Regions from separate parts of the Homo sapiens genome. Here region 2 is linked to region 1. Evidence: fine-mapped expression QTL. A gene starts in region 1. The other region holds a variant in brackets. All regions are shown on one strand. Distances are from middle to middle. Region 1 holds the start of SARS1 (seryl-tRNA synthetase 1). Region 2 overlaps SARS1 (seryl-tRNA synthetase 1).

What was found. PIP is the estimated chance that this variant, and not a neighbour inherited with it, causes the effect.
Region 2: its variant is the best candidate, but not a certain one, in a credible set for the expression of SARS1 in lung (TOPMed, PIP 0.84).

The regions. Positions count from the first base shown.
Region 1 is chr1:109,204,564-109,218,023 of GRCh38, forward strand. It overlaps SARS1 (seryl-tRNA synthetase 1), which reads left to right and starts at 9,355. Exons shown (of 11, transcript NM_006513.4): 1 at 9,355-9,565. The coding sequence starts at 9,430. It overlaps ELAPOR1 (endosome-lysosome associated apoptosis and autophagy regulator 1), which reads left to right. Exons shown (of 22, transcript NM_020775.5): 22 at 1-2,218. RefSeq lists a silencer at 9,149-9,368 and an enhancer at 9,419-9,778.
Region 2 is chr1:109,233,600-109,250,748 of GRCh38, forward strand. SARS1 (seryl-tRNA synthetase 1) reads left to right here. Exons shown (of 11, transcript NM_006513.4): 7 at 1,611-1,832; 8 at 2,378-2,507; 9 at 2,792-2,949; 10 at 3,645-3,774; 11 at 4,132-4,583. The coding sequence ends at 4,289. It overlaps CELSR2 (cadherin EGF LAG seven-pass G-type receptor 2), which reads left to right and starts at 15,940. Exons shown (of 34, transcript NM_001408.3): 1 at 15,940-17,149. The coding sequence starts at 16,481. RefSeq lists enhancers at 3,402-4,601, 6,542-7,237, 8,896-9,395, 15,257-15,977 and silencers at 5,726-6,140, 7,248-7,542, 15,979-16,038, 16,199-16,298. The variant C/G (reference allele first, on the strand shown) is at 4,391.

The DNA of each region.
Region 1 (13,460 bases):
GAGGCCAAGATTTTAATGGGGCACTTTAGGGGATACAGCCCACAATGGCATGGGCCTGAGGTGGCCGTGATGTCTGCTTCTAAGCTTAACGCATCTGCTCAGGCACAGAATAAACGTCTAGGCTGGCCAAAAAAGGAACTGAATCCCAGGCCCATACGCCAGCACCAGAATCAAACCAGTCTTCAAGGAAGGAAGGCTAGGAGAGTTTAACAAGATTTTCACTGGGCCCAGCATGGTGGCTCACACCTGTAATCCCAAGGCAGAATGGTGGCTTGAGCTCAGGAGTTCAAGACCAGCCTGGGCAACACAGTGAGACCCTGTCTCTAAAAAATTTAAAAATAAACAAGGTGTTCACCAAGCTGGGATACTTCTCACTATTAAGCCCCTATCTTTCTCTTTTTTTCATTCTCAATTGCTTTGTGTGATAAAAAACTAAAGAGACTTCTGGTCCAATTTCTGGCAACATCCCTTCTGAAAGGTGAGTAGAGTGGGTGTCTTCTATGCCCATTTTCCCCAATTTTACACAAACTATTATCAATGAACTTTTAAGTACCTAGAATGGGTAAAACCAGAGCAAGACTTTAAATTACCTTCTTCTTTCTTCTACTGGCAGTTCTGCCTCCATCACTATCAGGCTAGGGTGACCTTCCCTTGGTCAAGCCCCAATTGCCCATGATTTGTGCCTGTGCCCTTTCTCCAGTGACCATTTGGTGACCAGATGGTAGATATAGAAAGGGGATGGCATTTGCAAGTGACTAGTCTGCCACAAAATGCTCATCTGATTAGCCACTGCTGCCCTGGCAATGGCTTTGTAAGAGTCAATGAGAACTAGAGCCAGGCTGTGGTCCCTGGCCATCAACAGTGTTGGTGACGGCAGGGAGTCCCTTTGGTTTAATAAATCCAGTTTTTCTTTGGGTATCCAAATTCTCCCCTCCTTTTGTAGGAGTCAGGCTCTCAGAACCTGTGTCCATGTTGGAACTTCCCCCAGTGTGGATGCAGATACGCAGCTCCTGAGCTCCAGCCTAAAGTCTTCTGTAGCCTCAGCAATACTTGGGCACCTGCTGTCTCACTGAATAGCTTTCTTTTGTGACAAAGGCCACAGACAGCCCTTAGACTATTCCGGAAACAGTAGGAAAAATTACATATGTCTTTGACTTCTTTATTCTGACTCCACTGATTTTAGCCATAATACTTTAAGGAGCTACTTTTTACTACCCCTTACCGTGCTGACTTCTGCAGGTCTGCCCTGTGACCTGTCAGGAACTCCTGAGTTACGCTACTGGGGTCACCTGTTGCTCCCCTAGCAAGTTAGGCATGTCATATATTTTTAACAGCTTTATTGAGATATAATTCACATATTACACAATTCACCTTTAAAACATACGATTCAATGGTTTTCAGCAAACTCACAGAGTTGTCCGCCCACTTGAGAGCAAACACATGTTCAATTTTCTTTTCCTTTTTTTTTTTGAGACAGAGTCAGCTTTGTTGCCCAGGCTGGAGTGCAGTGCCATGATCTTGGCTCACTGCAGCCTCCCCATCCTGGGTTCAAGTGATCCTTCTGCTTCAGCCTCCCCAGTAGCTGGGATTACAAGCATGCGCCACCACGCCTAGCTAATTTTTGTGTTTTTAGTAGAGATGGGGTTTCACCATGTTGGCCAGGCTGGTCTCAAACTCCTGGACTCAAGTGATCCACCCACCTCGGCCTCCCAAAGTGCTGGGATTACAGGTGTAAGCCACCGTGCCTGGCCTACATGTTCAATTTTCTATGAACAAAGGCTTTAGTCCTTGACCCAGGGCTAAAGTGGTCTGTCCAAGCTGTTGTTGGTAGAGGGAGTATGATAAAATGTTTAAATCTCATTTGGTTACCTTGAGTCCTGGAACATGCAGTAACTGTCATGCTATAGACATCATCTGTATTTGGCTGGGAATACAAATGAAGATTGTGGTGTATTCAAGCAGTAGGGTTTTTGCTTTTGTTTTTGTTTTAGTGCCAACAAAACTTTTTTTTGTCTGACTACATTAAAGATAAGACTGACTATATTTATACAACAGAAACTTTGTAATAGATTTTTTCAGCTTTGTGAAATCGAATTTTTTTTCATCAGGGCTGGTTGGATTTCCTTTTTACCCTGTAATCCAAGCGTTAATAGTTTGTTAGAAGATGGGTTATTGCATGTCACTTTTTTTTTTTGTAAAATAAAAACATACCTTACAAGTTGTTTTTCTTAAACATGGGTTGGGTGGCTGGAGGGGTGAGTGGGAAATGTAAGTGTCCTGGAAGCTTAAACTGAAAAGGAGAAGGATTCCACATTCGCAGAGAGGCAGAGAAAAGAGCACAGACTTTGGAACAAGATGGACATAGGCTAGAAGCCTCCCACTACTTGTTGAGGAATCAGTCAATAACCAAAGCCTCAGTTTCCACAATAATAAAATGCATCTAATGATACCCAACACACCAAGATTGAATGAGCTCAAAAGAAATAACTCATAAACCACTTCGCATGCTACTTCCCTTCCCTTCTGCTCAGGTTTCTTTCAGGAAACATGAGGCCAGCCACATAACAATAAATCCACAAATAGAAGCAAAATTAGCTTCTTTGGGTATGAAGTAGATTATTACAGACTAGATGTGGAGAAAATCCTAGATGATATCAAGGGCCTACCATTTCCTGAGGTTGCTAGATTTTTGCTTTCTTTCTTTTTTTTTTTTTTTTTCTGAGGCTCACTATGTTGCCTAGGTTGGAGTGCAATGGCACAATCTCAGCTCACTGCAGCTCCAACCTCCTGGGCTTGAGTGATCCTCCCACCTCAGCCTCCTGAGTAGCTACAGGCATGCGCCACCACACCTGGCTAATTTTTGTATTTTTTGGAGAGACAGGGTTTCACCATGTTGCTGGTCTCAAACTCCTGGGTTCTAGAGATCTGCCCACCTTGGCCTTCAAAGTGCTGGGATTGCAGGCATGAGCCAGCGTGCCTGGCAGGATTTTTCTGCTTCAGGACTTTATTCTAGTTGAGGGCACTTGATCCCCAAAAATAATTCTCTCAGCTATTAATAGATGAGTTGGGAATGTCACACTTTTCAGACTGAATGGCACTAAGTGCCAGATGTTCTTCGTCAGGGTCCTTAGGTAATTTCTAGTCTTCTAACAGGCCTCTCCGCGCCAGTGCTTCCCACACCAGTATCACCCCCCTGCTCTGTAGCCAGAGCTCTTTTTCTTTTTTTCATGAAAAGTTTTCTGGTAAAAGGCAGAAAACCTGCTAACCAAATTCTAAAAGAGGGTGTGGCGGCTCATGCCTGTAATCCCAGCACTTTGGGAGGGCCAGGCTGGAGGATCGCCTGAGGCCAGGAGGTTGAGGTTGCAGTGAGCTATGATGGTGGATTGCACCACTGCCCTCCAGCCTAGGTGACAGAGGCAGACCCTGTCTGTAAAAAAAATAAAAAAATTCTACAAGAGCTGGAACACTCAGAGCCGTTTTTCTAACACATCTGATGGCACTCAAATGTGCCATCTCTGATGGCTCCTTATTGCTGTCAGGCAGGAGCAATTGGCAGCAGCTCACCTACACTCCAAGGCTGGTTGTTTATGACCCACATCTACTTTGACTGGGTGGTACCTGGGTTGTACTGGTGGTTAAATATTTTGAACATCACCCCTGCTTATAACATACAGTCCAAACTCTAAGAAGGTAAGTAGAAAAGAAAACGCATTCGTTTGGCATCTGTGTCAAGCCTGGACTTAATGCTTTCACAGCATTGCCTTTTTTCATTTTCAGAACAGCCCTGGAGGCAGCTACTATCCCCATTACACCCATTACAATAGAGGAAGAAACTGTGTCTCCAATAGATTCAGTTACGTGGCCTACAGGGTCCCTAACGGCCCACCGGCCCACCTTCCCAACATTGTTTCTACTCTAACCACACTGAGCTTTTGATGGTCTCTGAGTCATAAGCACCTTCATGCCTCCAGCATTGGAATATGCTCTCCTCTCTGCCCCTCTGCTTCCTTTTCACCTCACAGATCCCACTCAGCCTTCCACGTCACCCCACTGTGGGAAATAACAGGGCAAAAACAGTCCCATGGGAGTACCGCTATGAATCTTTATGAATACAACCGTGTACTGTGCAATGCAACAAACAAGCAACAGACACAATCAAGCTTGAAACTGCGGGGCAGTGAGAGGGGTGTGTAATGATATGGAAATGATTTTAAGAATTTCCCAATCACTGACAAAGAAGTAAAATACATTATCAGGTGACCAGGCAAGAATATACTTACGACTTGGTCTAAATCTTAAGGAAGACAATTAATTAACTGGGAAGCATAGAGCAACAATGAGTATTAAGAGATAGAGAAACTGATTTAGGGTTTTTAAGAGCTATTCAAGGAGAATTTGAAATATAAACTAATTTTGTCTCAGTGCCAAAGTTAACAATCCCACATAAAATGCAATTCCCTATAGAGTAGTTCAGCCTTAACGGTACTTTCACTTTCCACAGTTTCAGTTACCTAAAGTCAACTTAAGTCAAAAAATATTAAATGAAAATTCCAAAAATAAACAATTTATAAGTTTTAAATTGTATGCCATTATGAGTAGCATAATGACATCTTGTGCCATCTCACTCCTTCCCACCTGGGACATGAATCATCCCTTTGTCCAGAGTATCCATACTGTCTGCACTATCCACCCATTACTCACTTAGCAGCCATCTGAGTTACCAGATCGAAAAAGCACAGTATATGTAGGGATCCGTACTCTCCGTGGTTTCAGGCATCCACTGGAGACTACCGTAAGATACAGTGTGGTGGGAGAATTGATTTCGCACCCCAATTCTATCAGATGGAGAGGCTGGATCAAAGTCCCTCCAAGTCCTGGCAGCTTTCCCCGACCCACGCTATTTTTAAATGATTCCTGCTTAGTTGCTGAAGGATAGCAACGTGGACCTCCTTTGTTACTGTGTCTCTCTGATAGAAGGGAGTGGGTAAGCCAGAACTGGAGGCAGGGTTGTCAGTTCCTCCTGAAACAGTATCATCAATACTACTGTACTGTGGGAAACGGGAAGGGTGTCTAACCAATTTGCAGGGAGGGGTAAAGAGGATGTAAGAGAAGGCTTCCAGGAGAAAGGAGGAATTAGCCAGGTAAGAGGAACAGAGAAGGGAAAGGGAGTTCCAGGTAGAAGGAACTTGTGCAACCAAAGGCTCAGAGGGAAGGAAGGGAGCCACAAGAAGGTTGGAATGGGGAATACGAGGGGGAAATGTTAAGAGATAAAGAGGGCCAGGTGAGGTGGCTCATGCCTGTAAACCCTGCACTTTAAGAGGCCAAAGTGGGTGGATTGCTTGACCCCAAGAGTTCGAGACCAGCTTGGGCAACATGGCAGAACCCTGTATCTACCAAAACAAAAACAAATACAAACATTGCCTGGGGCATGGTGGCACACATCTGTAGTCTCAGCTACTCGGGAGGCTGAGGTGGGAGGATCCCCTGAAGCTGGAAATGTCGAGGCTGCAGTGAGCCATGGTTGTACCACTGTTTTCCAGCCTGGGCAACAGAGTGAGACTCAGTCTCACATACACACACACACACACACACACGAGATAAAGAGGGAACATGTTAGAGAAGCTGGTAGGGACAGATCATATATAGCGTTGCCAGCCATGTTTGGATTCCCCTGAGGGTAACAGGTATCCACAGAAGACTTCTAGCAAGGGAGTGACAGGACCGGACTTGTTCGGTGAACATTGAGAAACCCTACTCCAAATCCAAGACAGAGGAACACAAAGGGCTGCCACAGTGAGGCCTCAGAGAACCCTTCCGAGTTAGCCAGCTCCAAACTGGGAAAACTGAGGTAGGCAGCTTTTGTTGGGTGCCTCACACCCGCTTTTTTTGCTCCGTCTCTGCAGTTGCTCTTTTCCCCTAGGCTGCCCACTAGCTGCCCAGGATCCCCAAGGCAGTATCTTCACCCAGGACTCTGCTCGCTGACCTGCAACAAGCTCCCATCCTCTCAGCCTACTTCCTCGCAACCCACTCACTCAGGGAGGATGTAACAAGCACTTACCATGGGTAAGGCAGGGTGCTAGGTCCCGTGGGGAGAAAAATGCAAATACGCAATGGTCTCTGCCCTATAAGATCAGGCCCCATAGCATAGTCAGGGTCCTCACTGACCTGTTTTCTGCTAAGGATTGCTACTAAAAGGGCAAAGCCCAAACATTAGGCTATCTTAGGTATTTACCTGTGTCCTGGTTTTGATTCCATCACTTATCTTCTCTGGGGCTGTTTCCTTATATAGAAAATAAAAGGGTTAGCCTGGCTGGCTGTTTTCCAGTCAGGGCTTCTTGAGCACTTCAGTCCTCAGAGGCAGTGCCCAAGAGCATTCTTGGTAGTAAGGGTTAACAGAAATCACATATTCAAAGGTGGCAGGGCTTCACACCATCACTCCATAACGAAAGTTTTTATGTTGATTTGTTTTTGCGTTAGCTTCTGGCAGGAGTTACTTGGTGCAGTAACACTGCCTATTTCCTGCTGATCAGAATTTCTAGGTGGCAGCCATATAGATCTGATTAATAAAAAAGGCAAATTATTATTTTTTAAAAATCATGTTCATTAGACAAAAATATTTCAAAACATGAGGGACAAGGTGATGAAAAAATCAGGAATTATTAAGTTAACAGATAGCTGAAGCTCCCCTCCAACTCTAAAAATCCCACGATTCTAAGCTGATGAAGTATGCTATTATGTTAATTTATTATACTCATCAGGTAACATCAACTTTTTTTTTTTTTTTTTTGATACAGAGTCTCACTCTGTTACCCAGGCTGGAGTGCAGTGGCGTGATTTAAGCTCACTGCAACCTTCGCCTCCTGGGTTCAGGCAATTTTTGTACCTTAGCCTCCCAGGTAGCTGGGATTACAGGCATGTGCCACCACACCCAACTAATTTTTGTATTTTTAGTAGAGACGGGATTTTGTCATGTTGGCCAGGCTGGTCTCGAACTCCTGACCTCAGGTGATCCACCCACCTTGGCCTCCCAAAGTGTTAGGATTACAGGCATTAGCCACCGCGCCCGCCCATATGAACATTTTAAAGGGAGATGTTTGTAATCTAATGATAAGATCAATTGTAAAAATGCATGAATAAATTTGGAGAGATCAGAATTTCAAGATCACTTGTTGAATGACATTGATGACCTTCCTAAAGGGTTGACCCAGTGGCCCTCCTCCCCTAGGCCTGGGATCACTTCAGCCTCAGAAACACCTGCCACTGTTTTAGAAACTTAATTGGCAATACACTTTGGCGGTGCCTTCAATGACATGGAAGCAGGGAGCGCCCCCATCACAGACCTTGCCCTCAGAAGGTTTTAGGGAACCCAACACTTTGAGGAGAGTCTTCTTAGATGTTTTCCTCCAAGACTGCAGCTCCTCACCCTTCCTTTCCACTGGTTTTAAATCTAATACCATAGGCAGGTTGAACCAAGGAGAGCACACCCAGACAAGCCCCTTTCCTCTGCCTCCCTCAGGGTCTCTACTTAGCTCTATCATTGTTGTTAGACCTGACCTACACTTCAGGGTTGGCTTGGCAGAGGCTTTTTGGGGAGCAGGGATAGTGTAAGAGGCAAAAAAAAACAAAAAACAAAAAACAAAAACAAAAACCCACACTCAACACACAACATTTCTGTGACCAGATGCAGTGGTGAGGGGCCCTGGGGGGTAAGTTCCTCAGACACCAAGCGATTCTCCAGTGGACATTGGCTAAGCATTCTATAATTCAATTCGATTCTGATTCTGACACTAGCTACCTGGAGGTAGTGTCAGATTCCATGGGGTAAGGGCTTGATCCCACTAGACTGCTCCTCTTCAGATGCCAATTGCAAGTAGTAGATTTCACCTATACTTCTTAGCAGCTATAAACTGGGGCTCCCACTACCCCCTCCTTTGGTCTGATTAATTTGCTGAGAAGGCTCACAGACCTCAAGGAAACATTTACCAGTTTATTATAAAGGATAGTACAAAGGGTACAAATGAACAGCCAGATGAAGAGATGGATAGGGCAAGGTGTCAGGGGTGCAGAGCTTCCATAACCTTTCTGGGCAAGACACCCTCCTGGCATCTCCACATGTTCAACAACCCTGAAGCTCATCAACTCTTGTTGTTCGAGCGTTTATAGAGTTTGATGTCCAGCTCCTCCCCTCCCCCTTTCCTGGAGGTTGAAGGGTGGGGATGAAAGTTCCAATCCTCCAATCACTTGGTCTCTCTGGTGACTGGCCCCATCCTAAGGTTATCTAGGGCCCCCATCCTAAATCACCTCCTTATTATAAACTCAGGTGTTATCAAAGAGACCCATTACGTATAACCCAGGAAATTCAAGGGTTTTAGGGGCTGTGTCAGGAACCAGGGACAAAGCCCAAATATATTTCATATTATAAATAAATAATATGATAGTTAGCTATGTCACACCCTCATCTCAGGAGTCCATGACGGCGGTATAAGATCAAGAAGGTCTTAGCACATCTAGCTTCGAGAAGGCATTGGAAGTGAGGCTTTAAAGTTTCTGCAGAGTGGAAGGATTGGGGGTGGGGGTGGGGGAGGAGATCACCTGTTCCCAAATCCTTCAAATAATCTCTTGTTATCAGGGAGATTCTTTGATAACTTTGGCTTCACTCGGCAACTAGAATATTTCATTTAAAGGTCTGAACATTATAAAATCAAAGTATGATACAAACCGTTCTTCAAGACGCTTTCAAATTGACCCAAGACATGACCTCAACACCTTATACGGCGTTCAAATCTGCTTAATGTCCCTTTGGAAAAGTTTTCTCTCGTCTCTCTCTAAAAGACAACCGCACTTTCCCAAAGCTGTGCTCTTAAGAGTTGGTAAAGTGACAATTTGGTTTATCCAATAATCAGATTAATAAAGGTATACCATTTCTAAGGCACGAGAGCAGGAATCTTAAGCTGAGGTAGCCCTGGGACTAAATATGCCATCCTCTTGTATCAAGATGGAGAAGACGGCCGAGGTTCAGGGAAAGAGCCCAGTGGAAGAACCCAACCTAGTGAGAGGAAAACGGGCACCTGGTGAAGGCCCCGGCCTCTAAGCTAGGGATGAGGGGACAGGCCTCTGCCTAGCCTGAGACAGGAGTAGGAAACTGAGGCATTCACACTTTTATGTGGCGATCACAGTTCCTGCAGACTGTAGCAGAGCTGGGGAGCAGGAACCAGAGGTATAGTCCCACGCCCACCCACTCTCCCCTCCCCTCCCTCCGCGGCCCCGCCTCCAACCAGCCGCTTCCGGTCGCGGGGAGGGTCGCCTGCGGGCTCCAGCTGCGCCTGCGCAGGAAGGGCGGGTCAGCGCGCCGGCGCAGTGCGGCGGTCACAGGCTGAGTGCTGCGGCGCGATCCTTGCTTCCCTGAGCGTTGGCCCGGGAGGAAAGAAGATGGTGCTGGATCTGGATTTGTTTCGGGTGGATAAAGGAGGGGACCCAGCCCTCATCCGAGAGACGCAGGAGAAGCGCTTCAAGGACCCGGGACTAGTGGACCAGCTGGTGAAGGCAGACAGCGAGTGGCGACGATGTAAGTACCGGGACGGGCGGGTTACCTCCTTGATGCTAAACCCAATTTTCTCTCTCAAATCCAGCCACCGCTCCTGAGGCCACAGCTTCCACCCTTCGTCAGACCCCCTCCCAGGGTGCGGTGGCTCCGAGGTTCTCCCCATCCCCGAAAACACAGCCTGGTCGCCGGGGTCATCCCACTTTCTCCTCCACCCGGGCGGAGCGAGGTCCCTTCCACGCGTGCTCAGTGCCGTTCGCTGCCAGTGTGCGTACGCACGCGCATCGGGAGCTGTCAAGCCTTCCTGCCCCAGGGGTTGCCAGAACATGCCGGGGCGGGAGGTTGTGGGGTCTACGCGGCTTTCCTAACACGAATCTTTGGTCCCCCCCAGTCTTTTTCTCATCTTCAGCAAGGCCAGAGTGGTTTTCCTTTGTTTTGATAGGATCAAAGGCTTCTCCTGAGACTGCGTCACTTCTGCAACACAGTAGATTCATTCCTTCGGTATCGGAAGCATTTCGGGGCGTTGGAGGCCGCTCTTGGCCAAAATAAATGACCCTGAAGCTTTTCGGAAGGCCATCCCCCGACCTATGGGCATACCTTTAAGAATTAGAAAAGTCTTTTCCGTGGTAGATCAAACGCGAGGGGAGTGAGGAGGCGAGCAAAAGATTGTAATGACTGAAGCTGTTTAATTGTGATTTGTGGACGTTTTCCTTTAAAGACATTGGCAGAGTTGGGCTAGAACCTGGAACTGCCGGATCTTGGAGTCATATCGGGCATCTATCATGAAGCCGAATAAAACCATAGAACCATCTGCCCATAAATCTCTGCCTGTATTAACTGGAGTGGTCGCTGGTTGGGCGGATGCTGTCAAGTACTTGTGATTTGATTTGTCTGATGCAATAGGTCTGCAACCATCTGGGAGCTAGGTCGATGACAGTACACTGCAAAGGCAGCCACTATCCAAGAGTGTGATGGATTTCTATTAGGAAAATTGATTTTCTCCTGTTTATAAGGATCTTGGATGTCAAAAGAATATTTGTTTAACTTGAGTTTTGTGCTGATTCTATGTCTTAGGCCCTCTATTGTAGTAGTTTGTTTGATTGTGAGATTCCACACTTGACCTGAAGTTTCGAGTTGCAATGGAATTTAATTTTGCCACATTTTTTGTTTAGGATAAAACTAGCCTGAGCACTGTTCTACTGAATCTGAAGTCAGGAGTATCAGATTTTTGTGTCAGTCCAGCCCTTAGCCAGTGCTAAATGACTTTGAATGTGTTAGCTAGTCTTTTGGGTATAATGTCCACATCTGAGGGATTTGTCCCTTATCTGAAAAGTAGATAGGTGGTGAGTTCTTCAGGGACAAGGATTCAATTTTATTCATACAGTATATATGTGGATATACATATACACATTTATACATAAAATCCCAGTACCTAGCACTGTACCTGGTCCTTGGTAAGGCCTTGATAAAGGTTTGTTAGAGGCGTGAATATTTTCTGTCTTCAGGGCACTTTATATTCTTTATGAAAAGCAGTTTATGTAGTTTATGTTATTGTTTTAAAAAACTTAATCCTAAATGTGAAGTCATTTCTTTTCTTTGTTTTGTTTTGTTTTGTTTTTGAGACGGAGTCTCTCATTATCACCCAGATTGGAGTGCAGTGGCACCATCTCGGCTCACTGCAACCTCCATCTCCCGGTTTCAAGAGATTATCATGCCTCAGCCTCCAAGTAGCTGGGACTACAGGTGTGCACCACCACACCCAGCTAATTTTTTTTTTTAGTTGAGATGGGAGTTTCACCATGTTGGCCAGGCTGGTCTCTAACTCCTGACCTCAAGTGATCCGCCTGCCTCAGCCTCCCAAAGTGCTGGGATTACAGGTGTGAGCCACCATGCCTGGCCAATAGTTTATTTCCAATGCATCTATTAATTTGATTCTTTTCTATTTGACAACCCTTTCCAATATTCTCTTTGCATCCAAATGGAATTTATGTTTTTTCCCAAGTTCCCAACTGCCCAAGGTAGACACTGGCAGATTTATATCAAGGTTCTTTGACATCTTGAACTTCAGATCAGAGGATGGAGTTCTTCTCTCATTGCCTTGAGCAAGGGCTTATAACCAGAGCCACATTAAGAACTCAGATCATGCTCCCTAATTGAGGACACATAGCAAGCTTCACCAAGCCCTCCACTACAACTATACCAATTTGTCTTCCTGTAGACTTACAAGGTACCACTAGGGTTCCTTTGGAGAACTCAGGAGTCCAGTATAACTTGGAGTGATAATACCACATTGGAACTCACAACTCTTCTAACTCCAGGGATTTGAATGTGATTTCTTCTTTTTAATTCAGAGTAGCGTAATGATCCTACACTTGGGCATATTTGTCTTGGCCCCACTCCCAAAGCAAATAGATTTCCATGTAACTGGAAATCTGCTGCAAACCCCAAGAATTTTATCCTCCCTCAAAAAGTGCTATCCTGAGTGGTTTTTTTTTTCTTTTTACTGTACATTGAAAATTGAAGTTGTTGTTTCCTTTTTTTTTAATTTGAGACAAGGTCTCACTGTGTCACCCAGGCATGATCACAGCTCACTGCAGCCTCAATCTCCCCAGGCTCAGATGATCCTCCTGCCTTAGACTTCTGACTAGCTGAGACTACAGGCGCAATGCCACCATGCCTGGCTAATGTGTGTATTTTTTGTAGAGATGGAGTTTCGTCATGTTGCCTAGGCTGGCCTCAAACTCCTGGCCTCAAGCGATCCTCCCACCTCGGCCTCCCAAAGTGTTGGGATTACAGGCATGAGTCACCATGCCCAGGCTAAAGCTGTTATTTCCTCATAACCTTTACTGCACATGTTTTAAAACAGGTCCTTATCATTGTTTGCCCCAGCAACTGGAATAGCTTTCTATCTGCTTTCAATCTTAACCCAGTCTCACCAGGGCATATAATCTTTCTAGAATGCAAATCTGATCATTTTACTTGAAGGCTTAAGTTTTGCAGTGACATACTTTAGAGCAGCACTGTCTGATAGGAATAGAATGTTAGCTTCATGTATACAGATGCTCCTTGACTTAGGATGGGTTTATGTCCCAATAAATCCACCATAAGTTGAAAATATTGTAAGTAAAAAATGCATGAAATACACATACCCTACTGAATATCATAGCTTAGCCAAGCCTACCTTAAATGTGCTCAGAACACTGATGTTAACCTACAGTTGGGAAAAATCATCTTACACAAACCCTATTTTATAATAAAGTGTGAATATCTCATGTAATTTATTACTATTGATCATAAAGTTTAAGCATTATAAGTTGGCGATAGTCTGTAATTGTTAATTTGTTTGTATCCAATATAAAAAATATAAAGAGAAACAGATGAAATTAATTTTAGTAATACATTTTATTTAACCTAGTCTTGTATACCCAAAAGTTATATATATATAAATATATATATAATTATTATTATTATTTTTAGACAGCGTCTTGTTCTGTTGCCTAGGCTGGAATGCAGTGGCATGATCACAGCTCACTGCAGCCTGGACCTCCTGGGCTCAACTGGTCCTCCCACCTCAACCTTCTAAGTAGCTGGGACCACAGGTGTGCACCACCATGCCCAGCTAATTTTTAATTTTTTGTAGAGACAGAGTCTCACTTTGTTGCCCAGGCTGGTCTCGAATTCCTGGACTCAAGTGATCCTCCCACTTCGACCTCCCACACTGCTGGGATTACAGGTGTGAACCACCACGCCCAGCCCCGAAATTATATTTTCAACACATAATCAGTATTTTTAAATTACTGAAACTAGCCCGGTGCGGTGACTCACTCCTGTAATCCCAGCACTTTGGGAGGCCGAGGCAGGCAGATCACAAGGTCAGGAGATCGAGACCATCCTGGCTAACACGGTGAAACCCCATCTC
Region 2 (17,149 bases), 31 kb after region 1:
GGGATTTTTTTCATATATATGTTGTTTTCACATACTTATAATTGCCATGTACATAAATTGCCTTTTAACTTAGCATTATTTTTAATTTTTATTTTTATTTATTTATTCATTTTTTGAGACAGAGTCTCACTCTGTTACCCAGGCTGGAGTGCAGTGGCACGATCTTGGCTCACTGCAACCTCTGCCTCCTGGGTTCAAGTGATTCTCATGCCTCAGCCTCCCGAGTAGCTGGGATTACAGGCGTCGCCACCACACCTGGCTAATTTTTTTTTTTTTTTTTTTTTTTTTGAGACGGTATCTCACTCTTTCACCCAGGCTAAAGTGAAGTGGCATGATCTCGGCTCATTGCAACCTCTACGCACCGAGTTCAAGGGATTATCCTGCCTCAGCCTGTTGAGTAGCTGGGACTACAGGCATCCACCACCATGCCCGACTAATTTTTTTTTTTTTTGTATTTTTAGTAGAGATGGGGTTTTGTCATGTTGGCCAGGCTGGTCTCGAGCTCCTGACCTCAGGTGAACCACCCGCCTTGGCCTCCCAAAGTGCTAGGATTACAGGCATGAGCCATTACGCCTGGCCACACCTGGCTAATTTTTGTATGTTTAGTAGAGACGGGGTTTCACCAAGTTGTCCAGGCTGGTCTTGAACTCCTGACCTCAAGTGATCTGCCTGCCTAGGCCTCCCAAAGTGCTGGGATTACAGGCATGAGCCACCGTGCCTGGCCACCTTTTTATGTATCATTATATCAAAAGTATTTTTCTGTGTTACTGCATGGTCTTCATTTTTATGGTTGTATAATATTACATAAATAATGTTACAGTGAACTTTGTCCTGTCTGAACTTTTTTTTTTTTGCATTATTTTCTTCAGTTGAACAGCAAAGTATATTCTTTAAGGATCATAACCACTAACCTGTAAGCACCAAGAAAGCAGAGACTGGTGTCCCTTTTTGCTCCACATTGGTGTTTAGTAAACGTCTCACAAGGATTAATGTATGTGGCTACCAGCACAGGTTTATTGCATACCTGCCAGCATTGACCATTATTCATCATGGATGAGTTTTCTGTATTAGATAAGTGGAAAATAGCTGGGCACAGTGGCTCACGCCTGTAACCCCAGCACTTTGGGAGGCTGAGGCAGGTGGATCACCTGAGGTCAGGAGTTCGAGATCAGCTTGGCCAACATGGTGAAACCTTGTCTCTACTAACAATACAAAAATTAGCTGAGCGTGGTGGCGCGTGCCTGTAATCCCAGCTACTCAGGAGGCTGAGGTGGGAGAGTCGCTTGAACCTGGGAGGTGGAGGTTGCAGTGAGCCGAGATTGTGCCACTGCACTCCAGTCTGGGCAGCAGAGTGAGGCTCTGTCTCAAAAGCAAAAAAAAGATAAGTGGAAAATATTCTTTCCTCTTAATTTACATTTCTTTGATCTCTGTCAGGGACCCCATTTTGGACTGACCCATTCCTTTATCTTTTTAGTATTCTCTCCCCACTCCCAGGCAGGGATTAAAGGAAATTTTTCCTGCACTATTATTGATCTCTTTCTTGTGGTTTCTTATTCTAGCCAAGGTCCTCCCCACTTCCTCTTAACTGGTATAGCTCCTTCCTTCCACAGGTGATTGGCAAAGGCAGTGAAAAGTCTGATGACAACTCCTATGATGAGAAGTACCTGATTGCCACCTCAGAGCAGCCCATTGCTGCCCTGCACCGGGATGAGTGGCTCCGGCCGGAGGACCTGCCCATCAAGTATGCTGGCCTGTCTACCTGCTTCCGTCAGGAGGTGGGCTCCCATGGCCGTGACACCCGTGGCATCTTCCGAGTCCATCAGTTTGAGAAGGTGAGTAGATGGGTCAGGGTAAGGAGTGGAACTTTCTCTGTCTCCAGAATGGTTAGATGAGAGATAGGATCTGTGTTGCTGAGGCCCATCCTGGCTCCAGCTTTTCCTCTCATTGCTTACCTCTGTGTTTCTGGGGAAGTGCATGGTGGAGTGGCGTGGATTATGGACCCTGAAACCAGGCTGCGGCTTTACCACTCACCAGCTGTGTAACATTGGGCATAATGCATAAGCCCCCAGTGCTCCATTTCTGCCTTTGTATGAGGAGGATAACAGTAACAGTGCCTGCCTCACCAGGCCTATTGTGGCCTATTGTGAGGATTATCCCAGTCACTATATGTAAAGCACTCAGAACAGGGGCTGGCATGCATACGGGAAGCTCGCACCATAAGCATTTGCTCTTGTGGTCCAGTCCCAGTTGCTGGGGGCCCAGACTTGCCTGCCTCCCAGTGGTGTGGAAACAGGTCTTCATGGCAAGGATGTCTCCCACTTCAGTCCTTTATTCACCCTATACCGCTGTCACCGTTTCCTTGGGTCCCTCTCTGCAGATTGAACAGTTTGTGTACTCATCACCCCATGACAACAAGTCATGGGAGATGTTTGAAGAGATGATTACCACCGCAGAGGAGTTCTACCAGTCCCTGGGGATTCCTTACCACATTGTGAATATTGTCTCAGGTATGGGACCCAGCCTCTTCTCAGCCTCCCTTTCCTGTAATCCCAGACGCCACCCTTACCAGCTGAGCTGCCACACAGAGAAACAGCTCACAATTCAACTCATTGCCCACATTAATTAAAATATTACACTCTTCTCACTTGGGAGTATTTGGTGTTAAGAATATCTGGGTGTGATTTCACCTCTGGAGACAGGACATGAATTAAAGAATTCTTCAGGCTTGCTAAAGGTTAGCCTTCTGAAATACCATCCCTCCTTCATGAATTCTAGGGGTTTTTCCTTACAGGTTCTTTGAATCATGCTGCCAGTAAGAAGCTTGACCTGGAGGCCTGGTTTCCGGGCTCAGGAGCCTTCCGTGAGTTGGTCTCCTGTTCTAATTGCACGGATTACCAGGCTCGCCGGCTTCGAATCCGATATGGGCAAACCAAGAAGATGATGGACAAGGTAGATGGCCCCCAGGGAGGTGGGAAGCAGAGTCTTCAGTACACGGCCCGTCCGAATTATTTCTCAGCCTTTGGGGTGCACTGGTCCCCAGCATCATGGGAAAATCTGAGCTTCTCAATCTAGACCAAAAAGGGAATCTGAAAATGCCTTCTACTGAGTCAGGACTGAGTTCTTTTAGCTAGAAACCTGAATCTAGCTCTCTTCTATAAGGTAATTCTAGCTTTTCTCTTTCTGGCTTTGTTTTTCTTAACTCCAGAGAAAGAATAATCTCCATTTATCTACACAGAACAAGTTGGAGGCTTCCCTCTTCTCACCCAAGAAGGTCTGGGTTGTAAGCTGCTCTCTTCAAACCCAATTTTCAGGCCCTACTCTTTTCCAAGTCAGGTGCTTGAAAGGGGTGAAAAGGAAAGGCCACAATAGTAGTTTCTTCCTTCCCTCAAAGGGCCCAACTCTCAGAATACCAGAAGCTACCACTTGTCACTCATCGAAACATGAGGGATCTTTCTGCAGTTATCTAATAGGCAATAAATACCAAATAATTCAAATTTAGAAAAAAGTTGCTAAGGGGTAGAACCCATCATTTTGATTTGGACAGTTGTGGTTGGGGAAGTCTGGTTGAATGGATGGTTCCTGGCCGTCAGTAAGACCCGATGAGAGTTGAGCCCGACTTCCCCTCTGGGACCCTGTCTTCCCAGGTGGAGTTTGTCCATATGCTCAATGCTACCATGTGCGCCACTACCCGTACCATCTGCGCCATCCTGGAGAACTACCAGACAGAGAAGGGCATCACTGTGCCTGAGAAATTGAAGGAGTTCATGCCGCCAGGTAAAACTCCCAGCTCATCTCATCGTTCTCCTCTTTTCTGTCTTCACACTCTTCTAAATAGCAGTCCCCTTTCAGGATATACCAGGTTTTTTTGTTCAGACACAGCCCCTGAAACTCTGTCTGCCCTCTCGGGCTGGGCAGGGCAGGGGGCCTGGTTGAGAAAGTAGCCAGTGCAGGTATGATGTTGAAATGCTGCTAAAATTCAGACTAGGGAAGAAAAGAATAAAGGAAACCAGTGCCTATCAAAGGGACCCCTCTGTTCAAAGGGATCATTGTCTTGTTGAATTCTCCCCAGAGGTCTTAGGGCTTTGACTCACTGAGAAACAACAGGTCATTTGGTTGGCTCTTCCCTCCCAGGACTGCAAGAACTGATCCCCTTTGTGAAGCCTGCGCCCATTGAGCAGGAGCCATCAAAGAAGCAGAAGAAGCAACATGAGGGCAGCAAAAAGAAAGCAGCAGCAAGAGACGTCACCCTAGAAAACAGGCTGCAGAACATGGAGGTCACCGATGCTTGAACATTCCTGCCTCCCTATTTGCCAGGCTTTCATTTCTGTCTGCTGAGATCTCAGAGCCTGCCCAACAGCAGGGAAGCCAAGCACCCATTCATCCCCCTGCC[C/G]CCATCTGACTGCGTAGCTGAGAGGGGAACAGTGCCATGTACCACACAGATGTTCCTGTCTCCTCGCATGGGCATAGGGACCCATCATTGATGACTGATGAAACCATGTAATAAAGCATCTCTGGGGAGGGCTTAGGACTCTTCCTCAGTCTTCTTCCCCGGGCTTGAACCCCGCCTCTGAGGTTCTCCCTGATATACACTTCTGCTTTTCCTTCCAAATTAGGCTGCTCCCTCCAGTTAGCAAGTCACAGAGCCTTTGAACAGGTAAGCGAAGGGAGGGGTACACTTAGAAAAAGCTCAAGGGGAAGGTGGAAGATGGAGTCTGAATCACAAAAGCTTGCAGGGCAAGGGCCAGGATCCTCCTTTACAAATATATTCCTGCTTGAAATCATTGAGGTAGGACTAGCTTAGAGACCAGAACTGTTTTAAAAGCCTCTTAGCACTTCTGTTCCCTACAAAGGACTCTGTGGAAAGCGAGAGGCTGTATTTAATCCAGAAGAGCCCCTAGCTTCTATGCCTAGCATGGGTTGGGGACTTATTAACAGCAGTTTCTCTCGTTACAGCCATCCCCACATGGGGAGACCAACTGCATACCAACTTGCTGCTGCACCTCCAAAGGATTGGGATAGCCAGCAGGGCAGAGGAGAGGAGAAAATGTTGTAGCCCCTTTGTGGAGCTCCCACTGTTGCCCTAATAGCCAGTTCCTTTCTCAGGGGAGGCTGATGTTCAGGCTGTTTATTTACCTGCTGCCTTTCATCTGCAATCTACAAACCCTTTACTTTAATAACAGCTTCTGTTAGTTTAGTGCCTCTCTCCTAGGAGGTTAAAATACTCCCTATAGATGATCTCTTTTATCTTTGTGATGGTCCCAGAAGGTAGGGTGGGGACATGATTATATGATTATGCTTATTCCATCCTTTGGAAGACAGAAATACAAGGACGGTAAGGGAGATGAGACAACGTGGCCTGATGGAGGTCGGAAGTCCTGACTCCTCGGCAGTGCTTTATGTTTCTTTGGGAGGTTGAGAGCTGGAATGTGAACTGGGCTGTCACTTAGGAGCCTTTATCTCACCTCAGCTTCCTTAGTCCCTGAGCAGCGACTTGGGCCTGCTGGAGCATAGTACCAAGGAAAGGGGCCATGTGCTCCATTTTCCACTGGGGGCTTGAGATTGATCCTATTAATCTTGCTGCTGGAAACCCTGTCAAAACTGAGGTAGGTGCGTGAAGGGGTGACAGTGGCTCTCTTGTCTTGCCTGGCTATGCCAGCTGGGGGCCCACAGGCAGACCCGCCTGGGCCGTAGCCCATTGCCCCAGCTCTGGGATAACAAAGCCGGGACAAGGGGACAAAGAGCAAGCTGCTCCCATTTGTAATTCAGAAGGACCAGAAACTCACATTTCCTGTGGCCTCAACTATTTGGTTTGAAGAAAGGCAGCGTACACAGTGTGCAGGAGGCTAGTTTTGCCCCACCCCCTATACCATTCCAGAAGCCCACTGGGAACTCTCACAGGGCCCTGAACGCCCCTGCTCTGCCTTAGCTCTGTCTTAGAAGTCCCTACAGCTGCCTGCACCACTCCCCACGCCTACCTGCTTAGGCTCCTGGTGCCTGTCACCTTCCTACCAGTAGGAGGCTCTGCTTTTTGCCATGGCCCTGAGAGCTCTGTGGGAGGGCAGAAGCTGGGGCTTTGAGTCCCTGAGGACCCAGCTGACTTACCTGCTGGAGCTGGCTGCCTGGACTCTCAGCTGCTTTGTGCAGAGAGACCCTCCTGCCTTGGGCAGCCCAGCTTTCCCTGCCAGCCTTCCTCCTGCCCGTGTAGGGACTGGTGTAGGAGCCTGGCTAGGAAGATGGCTGTATGGACAAACTGGCTTGTTAGCAGAAAGTAACTATAAGGGACCCCATGCTTCCAGAAGCCAGAGGAGAGGAAGTCAATGGTAGTGAAGGCAAGGATGACTGTGGCTGAGGTCCCTCCCCACAGGTCATACCCAAGAGCACAACAGCAGGAGGGCACACACGGTCACCGAGTGCTTACCTTGTGCCAGGCACCATTAGGAGCAGGGTTTACAGAAAGAAGGTAACACAGTTCCTGCTCACAAATAACTGTTGGGAAAGGTGTGGTTCGCCTTCCTTCAGAGAGGGAAAACCAGACACTCTCCCTCCCTGAGGCAGTGGGATGGGGCTGATGCAAGCTTCATTTAGGAGGGGCCGACCCACCTGGAAGCCGAGCAGTTGGGAACAGGCCCAATAGCCTTGACTCCACCCTGGTAGTTGCCTCCGCATCCCACGCCTGATGCCCTCATCTCTGGCACCTTGACCTGCCCCATCTCCAACCTCAGCTACCCAGGTTACCTCAGTTAGCAAACACCCTCCAGAGGCCTAGTGGAGTGAGTCAGAGCCCTGGGTCCCTCACCAACCCTGGGTTCCCACACCCAGGTATTCAGGGCCCAAGATGCAGGTCTGGGTGCTTTAGGCAGGGAGTGAGGAAACACTGGGACCAACAGTCTGGCCTCTCCACCAAGAGAGACAACCATAAGCCAGACTTCTAGAAACTCTAAAGAGGCTGGTAACTGGGGACCCAACGTAAGGCCGAGGGACCTGCCTGCGCTCACAGTCCAGGCTGGGCAGGGCAGCTCATTAGCCAAACACTGAAACCTCACTCCTGGGAACCAACATTCTCCTAGCCGTCTGTCCTGCTTTTCCTCCCCTGAAGCTTTTCCGGTTTACCCCAGGTCCTGAGAATGCCTCCTCTCCCCGAGTCCCCATCCTTCCCCAGGGGGTACGCGGCGGGGGCGGCCCTGGCTGCACTCCCAGGATGAGTCTGACAGGCAGAGCTGGGATGGGCGCCAGACAAATGTACTGCGTGTCGGAGCCTGTGCCGGGATGAGGGGCCTGCCCCGCTCTCCCAGTTACCTCCCAACATGGGGTTCCCCAGCAGCTCTTCCCAGGTACAAAAGGGGAGTGCTTCCTTGCAGCCTGGACTTGGCCAGGTCCTGGTGGGGCTGATGCCTCGGCCTCTGACATTGCCCTTTTAAGAGCCCTCTCCGGCGGGGCCAACCTGTAATCCCAGCGCTTTGGGAGGCCTAGGAGGGCGGATCGCCTGAGGTCAGGAGTTCGAGACCAGCCTGGTTAACATGGTGAAACTCTGATTCTACTAAAAATACCAAAAATTAGGCGAGCATGGTGGTGCGCACCTGTAATCCCAGCTACTCAGGAGGCTGAGGCAGGAGGATCGCTTGAACCCAGGAGGCATAGGTTGCAGTGAGCCGAGATTGTGCCACTGCACTCCAGCCTGGGTGACAGAGTGAGACTCTGTCTCAAAAAAATAAAAATTAAAAAAGCCCTCCCCATGGGGGTGGGGTGGGGGTGCTGCAGGCAGGTTCATGTTGCAGAAACCCAGCAATGTGCAGCTCCCCATCCATCTGCCAGGAAAGAAGCCCTGAACTCCAGGTCTTTACCTCTCTGGGACCTTCCGGCGGAGGTAGGGTGTCCCAGCCACCTCCGAGAGAACCTCTTGTTACGGAGGGGCGGGTCCTCTTCTGCTGCTCTGACTGGCTGGTTCACAAGCCCTGCATTTTGGAGATTGGTCCCTGTCCCTCCATGGGACTTGGTTCCCTTCCCCCTACACAAACCTGCTGTCAAAATGGTCTGGGAGTTTATTTTCATTGGGGTGTAAATTGCTGATAAGACGGTGTGACCTTCTGGGACAAGTGGTTTTTAAACCTGAAGAAATTGAAGAATTAAGCTCCCATTTGGAATACGCTTCATCCTTGCCTCCTTCCATCTTGTCTCAGAGAAAACCTTTTTTTTTTTTTTACTCCTTCTCCAAAACCAGGTCTTATCTACTTGTGCCCTGGAACTCGCCACCATCCTGCTTCCCCTGAGTCCTTGTTCTTGAGCTAGCTCTCTGCTGAACCTCCCGCCCCACTTCCCCTCAGTCCCGACCTGCTAACATATTCCCCATCTGAAAACAGCCATCCTGCACTCCTGCCGCTCCTGTCAAATTGCGATCCCATCTGGCTCCTCTCCCTCAAAGATGAATGAACAGTGGACACTTGCAGGCTCTGTTACCTCATTAACATTCCTGGCCCTCCTTCACCCCATTCCCCTCAGAGGGAAGGTGAACTGTTCCAGAGGGAACTGCACGAGGGGACAGGAAGAAGGCCTGAATGGCTGAAGCATGAAGTAAGGGCGATACTGACTGGAGGCTGGAGATGTGGGCAGGGTCAGGAGATGGCACCTGACCCTAATGCTGGCCTCCACCTCCGCTTTCCCTGCTGCTCTGTGACCTCCACATGCAGGGCTCTCAAATCCATTCTCTCTCATCTGAGCATCTCCACCCACCCCCAGCATACACATTGGGCATCTCCTCTTAGTATTCAGGCACCCCAACACACACCTGAGACTCACCCTGGACAACTCCCTCCTCTTCATCTCCAGGGGCCAGTCTGTTTCGCAGCGCCATTGAGTCTTCATCACTCAGGTCTGCCCCCTTGACAGCCTGCTCCCTGGCCCCAGCACAGCCCTCCTCCTCCTGGACTATTACAGCGGCCTCCTTGCTAGTCTGCTGGACCTCAGTCCCTTCTTCCGGCGCAGCCTCCTCACTGTGCCAGATTAGCCTGCCAGATGGCACAGCCATGATCATTCCTCCCCTGCCAAAACACTTCAGATGGTTCCCCTCAACTTATAAGGTCCAGACTTCTCAGCTGGAGCCCCAGCTCATCAAAATGTGCCCCCAGTTCAGATTAGCGGCTCTCTGCTCCTTATTCTCACCGCCCCCTTGTTTCCTCCTGTTTCCTGGCACTGACCGTGTGTTGCACCTCTCCACGCTTGCTCACACTGTTCCCCCTGCCTGGATGCCTTTTCCTCCTGCCTATTAGTGGAATTCTTCCTTCCTCTTCAAGATAGCTCAAATGCCACTTTCTTTTTTTTTTTTTTTTTTTGAGATGGAGTTTCACTCTTGTTGCCCAGCCTGGAGTGCAATGGTGCGATCTCGGCTCACCGCAGCCTCCGCCTCCTGGGTTCAAGCGATTCTCCTGCCTCAGCCTCCCAAGTAGCTGAGATTACAGGCATACGCCATCACACCTGGCTAATTTTATATTTTTAGCAGAGACGGGGTTTCTCCATGTTGGTCAGGCTGGTCTCAAACTTCCGACCTCAGGCGATCCGCCCATCTAGGCCTCCCAAAGTGCTGGGATTATAGGCACGAGCCACTGTGCCCGGCCAAATGCCACCTTCTTTAAAAAGCCCTCCCTAACTCCTCCACCCCCACACAAAAATATTAGTGACTATTGCTCTGTGACAGCTTTTGTCTCTGTCCAAGGGACTGGCTGTCCCTTGGGGACATAGCTCATCTGTGTACCTCTCACACTTAGCCACCTACCACCGTGGCTGGAGCATGGCTCTGGCCAGACAGGGCCTCCTTCCTTGGCCTGCTCTGACAGCCTGAACAGCCACGTTATTCAGAGGGTGCTTAGGGATTTGCCGCTCGAAGCTCAGCCCCAGGTTCCATCTCTTCCTGCCCGGTGGTCAGAGGCAGTATTTTCAGCTGGATCTTAGATGGCTTTACATCTTTATGGAATGCTGGGCCTATTAAGCCACCCTTGACAAAGAACACTGGCACTGTGGGTGGAACCTATCACTAGGATAAAGCATCCAATATCATCTTTTAACAAGCGCCAAAGAAGGTCTATCTCACAGGGCTGGGACATCAAAACCTCTACCCCTGGCTGCAGCAGGCATGGGGAATGCAGTTTTGTGGTTAAAGTGAATGAGTTCAGGGCTGCCCTTAAAACAGCCTAGAGACCCAACTGGCCTACCAGATGGTGGCTCCAGGCATAAAGGGACATGTGGTCACCCCTCTCTTCCATCCATCCATCCATCCTCCATTCATGTATTCATTTTATCTTTTATCTTTTTTTTTTTTTAAGACAGTCTTGTTCTGTCACCCAGGCTGGAGTGCAGTGGAATGATCTCGGTTCACTGCAACCTCTGCCTCCTGGGTTCAAGTGATTCTCACGTCTCAGCCTCCCAAGTAGCTGGGATTATAGGCGCATGCCACCACGGCCAGCTACTTTCTGTATTTTTTGTAGAGACAGAGTTTTGCCATGTTGGCCAGGCTGGTCTCAAACTCCTGACCTCAAGTGATTCACCTGCCTTGGCCTTCCAATTTGCTGGGATTACAGGCATGAGCCACCATGCCTGGCCCATGTATTCATTTTTTGACCAATATTTTCCACGTGCCTACTGTGTGTGTCAGGCCTGTGCTAGGTGCTAGGTGATAGGCATTCAAGACATATGTGTTCTCGCTGGTCCTGGAGCTCACTGCCAGTGGGTAAGACTGATGTTAGCCAAGTGAATACTCTAATTACAAGTTGTCATATGTGCCAGGAAAGTGGGGGCATTTAAGACTGCCATGTTCAACAGCTGGAAGGAAGCCAGCATGTCCAGAACAGAGTGAAAGGGGAGGAGTGAGAAGAGGCTGGGCCACTCCACACTGGACTTTGTGGATAAATATAAGGACGCTGGATTTTATTCAAGGTACAACAGAGGCCCACGGCAGGGTTTTCAGAAGGGGAATGACATGCTCAGATCTAAGGCCGTGCAATAGTACCCTGTGAAGGATACCATTAGGTATCCTTTAATCAGATAAATGCAGAATGTGGCACTTCAATAAGAAAACTGGACTCTTCAGTCGATGTCAACAAAAAAGGAAAGAGAGAGAGAGAGAGAGAAAAAAAAAAAAAAAAGAGTGACATATGACCAAATGTAATCCACGAACTTGAAAGCAGCAGCTGTCTAAGACCTTTGGGAGACAGTAAGGAATTTGGATTGGACTGGATATTAGATGATACCAGGAATTCCCCTTCATGTTCCTGGTCGAAGCAGCAGTCCTGTGGGTGTGCAAGAAAGGGAAGAAGGGGAGGCACTTGGAAAATATTGGTCAAAAAATAAATACCTGAAATGAGGAAGGAAGGATGGATGGATGGATGGATGGATGGATGGATTGATGACTGGATGGATGGCAGAGAGGGCTGACCAGATGTCTCTTTATACCTGGAGCCACCATCTGGTAGCCCAGCTGGGTCTCTAGGCTACTCTAAGGGCAGCTCTAAACTCATTCACTTTACCCACAAAACTGCATTCCTGGCCAGGCACAGTGGCTCACACCTGTAATCCCAGTACTTTGGGATGCCGAGGCGGGCGGATCACAAGGTCAAGGGTTTGAGACCAGCCTGGCCAACATAGTGAAACCCCATCTCTACTAAAAATACAAAAAATAGCCGAGCATGGTGGTGCATGCCTGTAATCCCAGCTACTTGGGAGGCTGGGCAGGAGAATCACTTGAACCCGAGAGGCAGAGGTTGTGGTGAGCCGAGATTGTGCCACTGCACTCCAGCCTGGGCAACAGAGCAAGACTCCGTCTCAAAAAAAATTAAAAAAAAAAAATACTGCATTCCCTGACTCTCAGGAGCTGCCTGCGGAGGGGCCCAGGGCTCAGGCACCTCATTTTCCTCTCATTCTTCAAAAATTGAGAGACATAAAGCAGAGTGTCAACAATTATTGAATCCAGACACCAGGCACAGTGGCTCACATATGTAATCCCACTTGAGACCAGGATTTGAGATCAGCCTGTGCAACACAGCAAGACCCCCTCTCAAAAAAAAAAAAAAAAAAAAAAAAAAAGCTGGGCATGGGTGGCCTGCACCTGTAGTCCCAGCTAGCTACTCAGGAGGCTGAGGTGGGAGGATCACTTGGGGCTGTTCTCAAGCAGTCAAGGCTGCAGTGAGCTATGATCACACCATTGCACTCCAGCCTGGGCAACACAGTGAGACCCTGTCTGAAAAAAATAAAATAAAAATTGTTGAATCTAGCAGGAGAATATCTGGGTATTTATTATACCATTACACCATTCTTTTGATTTTTCTGAAGGCTTGAAATTTTCCCAAATAAAAAACTGGGGGAGATTTTTTAAACCTAAAAATGTTTATTAGTTTAAAAAAAAATTACTTTCACTGCCGAGCAGAGACTGGTTTGGAGGGGAGGTGACCACATGAAGAATCCATAAAATCCTGACTGAGTATCCCCCTCTGTGACAGACCTGAAGTGGGGAACTGAGAAACAACAGAGCCCCCACAAGGAGTGCACCTTCCAGCCTTGAAGAAAGTGGGGAACAGTGGGCGGGGCACGACAGGCAAGTGTAGACCGAAGGGTGTTCAGATTTCTGGCCACCCCCATCCCCCAGTCTGCTGGCTCCTGGTTCCTTCACGCCACCCACCCCACAGTCCAGGAGCTCCAGGAGTCACCCATGGCCAGGTTCTCTCCTTCTGGTTTCTGTGCCCTTTCTAAAGCAGCACAGAGCCCAGAAATGGGATCGGGTGCCAGGGCCTCTTTCTCTTTCCAGAGAAACTGCCCTGCCCACCCACAAAAGGTCACCATGACCGATCCCATCAGCAGCCTCCCTCCCCACCCCTCCTTCCCAGCAGGCCATTGGTTCCAGAATTTCAGGCCACAGGGATCTGCCCAAGGCAGAGCTCACCTTGTTCTTCCTCACCAGCGTGCTAGGCCACAGCAGAGCCACCCCAATCTTCAGCTCCAGCCAAGCTGATGCTTGCATTTCATTCATTCCTTTCATTCATTCATAGTGTACTGCTTAAGAGAGTGGGCTCTGGGGTCAGATTGCCGGGGTCCAAATCCTAGCTCTTCCATTACTAGCTGTATAATCATGGAGAAGACACTTAATGTGTAGATTAAGTGACTTAACTGATGAATTCCTCTTCCAGGAATGCTGTTCCTGATTCTTGAAGATGCAGCCCAAGTCCCGTCTCCTCTAGAGGCCCTCTGGGATTTCCTCCACCCTCACTGCTCTGTCCTCTGAATTCCTTTAGCCTTTTCTCTCAGTTGCTTCTGGAGCACTTCACCCATGCGACCCTGTTGTGTTGAAAGCCAGGGCCATGCCTTATCCAGGGGGTCCTCAGGAAGCAACCTGAGTAAGGAAATCCCACCAGAGCTAAAGGACAGCCGCAAGGCTAGCCAAGCAGGTTTCCTTCCTTCCCAGAGCCTCCACTGTGAAGTGGGAGGTTTGGACTAGAAGAACAATAAATTCTCTTTTAACAGACCCCAAGCCCTTGCTGCCCCTTGATAGCACCTAAAAGCTATGCAGAAGGGAGGCCTAAATGTCCCTTACACACAGGAGGGAGGTCCATAGGTTCCTTACAACTGGAAAGCTCCATGAAGCAGGCAGCCCTTCCCTGGGGATCAGGGAGGCCTCCACCAGGGCAACCCCTCCCTCATTTGAGACTCTCAGTGATGCATATGAAACTTGGAAATTTCCCTCCTGCTTTTGGGAGTTGGAAGTATCTGAGGAAGTGATGGGGAGAGAGCTCTGTCCTGTGCCCCCGGAGGGAGGACTGGGGAGGATTAAGGACTATTTGCCAAATGTGCTTGGGGATGAAGGAAAGGGTTCCTTGGATCCCCCAACCTATCTGCCTTTGGGTGGAAAGGCCACCCACCTGGAAGGGGCTTCTGAGCTCATGCCTTCCCTGGCAACCCCTGCCTCAAGGTGCAAGGCCCCAGAACCACCTTCCGTGATCCAGAGCCAGGGCTACTCTTTCCTCCCACCCAGAAAGCTTATTTTAGCAACAAAGGGAGCGAGATGAATGGAGAGTTGCAGCTTCTCCACGGGTTGGCTTGGGCCTTCACCAGAAATGAGAGTCTCATTACCCAACCCCAATTCAAAGGATAATTAACAGATGGTATAATTTCCAAGCATTCTCTGCACCACATGGCTATTAGGTGAAGAACAAAATGCCCACGCAGCCCCTAGATCCTTCCAAACTCCAGAGTCTGAGGAAGTCTAGAGAGGCAGAGCCCTGCGGAGGCGTGTAACCCACGCCTCCATCTCCAGAGCTGCCCTTGGCCTTGCTCAGAGGAAGAAAGCTCCTGTTTGGTCAAAGGGGAGGGCATTTCCTTGAGCCATGGGTCCTCCTCCTACTTCTATCCATCCTGCCAGGAGCACAGTCTAACCCTAATCTTTCTTGCTGTACCCAAGGCCCATCTCCTTTCCTGTTTCCCCAGGGGAAAAGAGAAAAGCTGATTTCTCATCCTTGGCCTCACTGTGTGGTCACACAGACACTCCTTGGGCCTGGGGCTGGGGGATCCTCTGCTGTGACCCAGTGAGAGTGGCACCACTGTGACCGGGGGCAGTGGTAGAAGGGAGCACCTGATCCAGTGCTTTTCAGATGGGTTCCTCCAGACCCTCAAGTTGCACAGAGCAGCCCAGGGATTTCTTGGTTGGGGGAGTGGTGGAGAGGGGCAAGGCCCTGACCCCCTCACTTCAACCCAGCAGCACTACTCATCTGTTCTATATTCTGGCCTTCCACTTCAGATTTCTTTTGAAGAAAAGAATTCTACTGCTAAATAAACATTTGAGAACCATTCACCTTATTCAATCCCCTCATTTTACAAAAAGGGACATTGAGGCACAGAATTTGAGCAAGGTCACATAGCTGTGGTGTTGGAGGCTGGGACCCAGGCCCAGGCATCCCCCCAGGCCAGGGCATCCCCCCAGGGACTACCTGACTGGGCCCCTGGCTGCTCCAGGATGTAGGGAAGCCTTTTCTGGGTCGCCTGCACGGCTCCTGCCTGGCTCTCCGTGTGGTCCAGCTTCATGTCTGGTCCTCTTGGAGAACCCCTGGAATCCTGCACACCCTCTCAAATGAAGCTGCCTTGGAGAGGGTCAGGAGCCCGGGTACCAGGTAGGCCTCCTCGCTGGTCACAAAACTGTGGCGGAAGGAGGGGGTAGCCGCAGGACATGGACAGGGAGGCAGGAGGGGATGAGAGGCCGCCTCTCTAGACAGGACCTCAGGGGGCAGTGTAAGCCCCTTGTCTAGAATCCAGGAAGCCTGTGTTAAAGCTAGGCTCCACCGCAGCCGGCCTCCGAATCTGGTGACAGTGTGTTTGCACCACCTGGCTTCCACCCACTCTGACCCTTCTAATTTACTTCCCTGGAAAAGCCCAAGTGGTGTCCAACATGAGGCTGGGGTCATTCTTCCAACAGCCCGACCCCAAGGGGCATGCTGGTCAGACAACAGCCTCGCTGGTGGGGTGGAGGGGACGGTAGGGAGCGAGTGGGCCCGGTGACTCATTGTGGGTGCTTCTCTGGGATTTTGGAGGCTTTGTTGTGTTGCTCAGGGCCCTTTTAACTCTGTCTGACCTATGGGAGGGGACAGCAACGAGGGCTTTTATGACTGGAATGAACTGGAAACTTGGCCTCTGAGAGCCCTTAAAATGTTTTGGAAACCTCTAGGCATACTTAGGGTACTTCCACCATGATTATCATCGGCTGTGTGGCTTCCGATCGCTAATTCGCACCGGGCATCTGGCGAGGCCGGCCTGGGGAAATTGGGATGGAGGGTCCTGCTGGAGGGAATCCTGGCGCTTTGGGCGGAGGAGTGCTCTGGGTGGGGCCCACCTCCTCCAGCGCGGCCGGCGTTGCCGCTTTAAGGCGGCCGCGGCGCGAGCAGGTCTATGGTAATGAGCCGCCGCCGCGACTCTGCAGAGCTCGCCCGCCCGCCGGGGAGGCGAGGGAGCGCGGGGCTGGGCCCGGGGCCGCGGCGACAGGCAGCAGCCGCGGCGGGGACGCGGGGCGCGAGCGGGCGGCGCGGGACCGTCGGGGGCCGCCGGGGCCGGGCCGGGGTCGGGGCGCACGGCTACGCGGGCGCAGGTGGGCGATCCCATAGGGGCGGAGGGGGCACCCCGGCTCCGGAACCCGGGGCCCGGCAAGGCCAGGGGCGCCGCGGGGCCCCCGGGCGCAGGTGGTGAGTGCCCGGAGCGCAGGTGGAGGCGCGGCGGCAGCCCGCGGTGCTCAGGGTGACCCGGGAGCGGGTCTGGCTCAGGGGGCAGTGGGAGCCCGGGCTCGTCGGAGGGTGCAGCGCGGGGTCCCGCCGAGCCATCCAGACGCAGGCCCCGCGGGGCGCACGGGAGGCCCCCGGGGACTGGCGCCCTGGCCCGGGCATGAGGCGCGGCGGGGCCGGCAGGAGCCGGAGGAGGAGCCGCCGCCGCCGTTGACCCGGCCGCCGGCCGGGAGCTGGGAGAGATGCGGAGCCCGGCCACCGGCGTCCCCCTCCCAACGCCGCCGCCGCCGCTGCTGCTGCTGTTGCTGCTGCTGCTGCCGCCGCCACTATTGGGAGACCAAGTGGGGCCCTGTCGTTCCTTGGGGTCCAGGGGACGAGGCTCTTCGGGGGCCTGCGCCCCCATGGGCTGGCTCTGTCCATCCTCAGCGTCGAACCTCTGGCTCTACACCAGCCGCTGCAGGGATGCGGGCACTGAGCTGACTGGCCACCTGGTACCCCACCACGATGGCCTGAGGGTTTGGTGTCCAGAATCCGAGGCCCATATTCCCCTACCACCAGCTCCTGAAGGCTGCCCCTGGAGCTGTCGCCTCCTGGGCATTGGAGGCCACCTTTCCCCACAGGGCAAGCTCACACTGCCCGAGGAGCACCCGTGCTTAAAGGCTCCACGGCTCAGATGCCAGTCCTGCAAGCTGGCACAGGCCCCCGGGCTCAGGGCAGGGGAAAGGTCACCAGAAGAGTCCCTGGGTGGGCGTCGGAAAAGGAATGTAAATACAGCCCCCCAGTTCCAGCCCCCCAGCTACCAGGCCACAGTGCCGGAGAACCAGCCAGCAGGCACCCCTGTTGCATCCCTGAGGGCCATCGACCCGGACGAGGGTGAGGCAGGTCGACTGGAGTACACCATGGATGCCCTC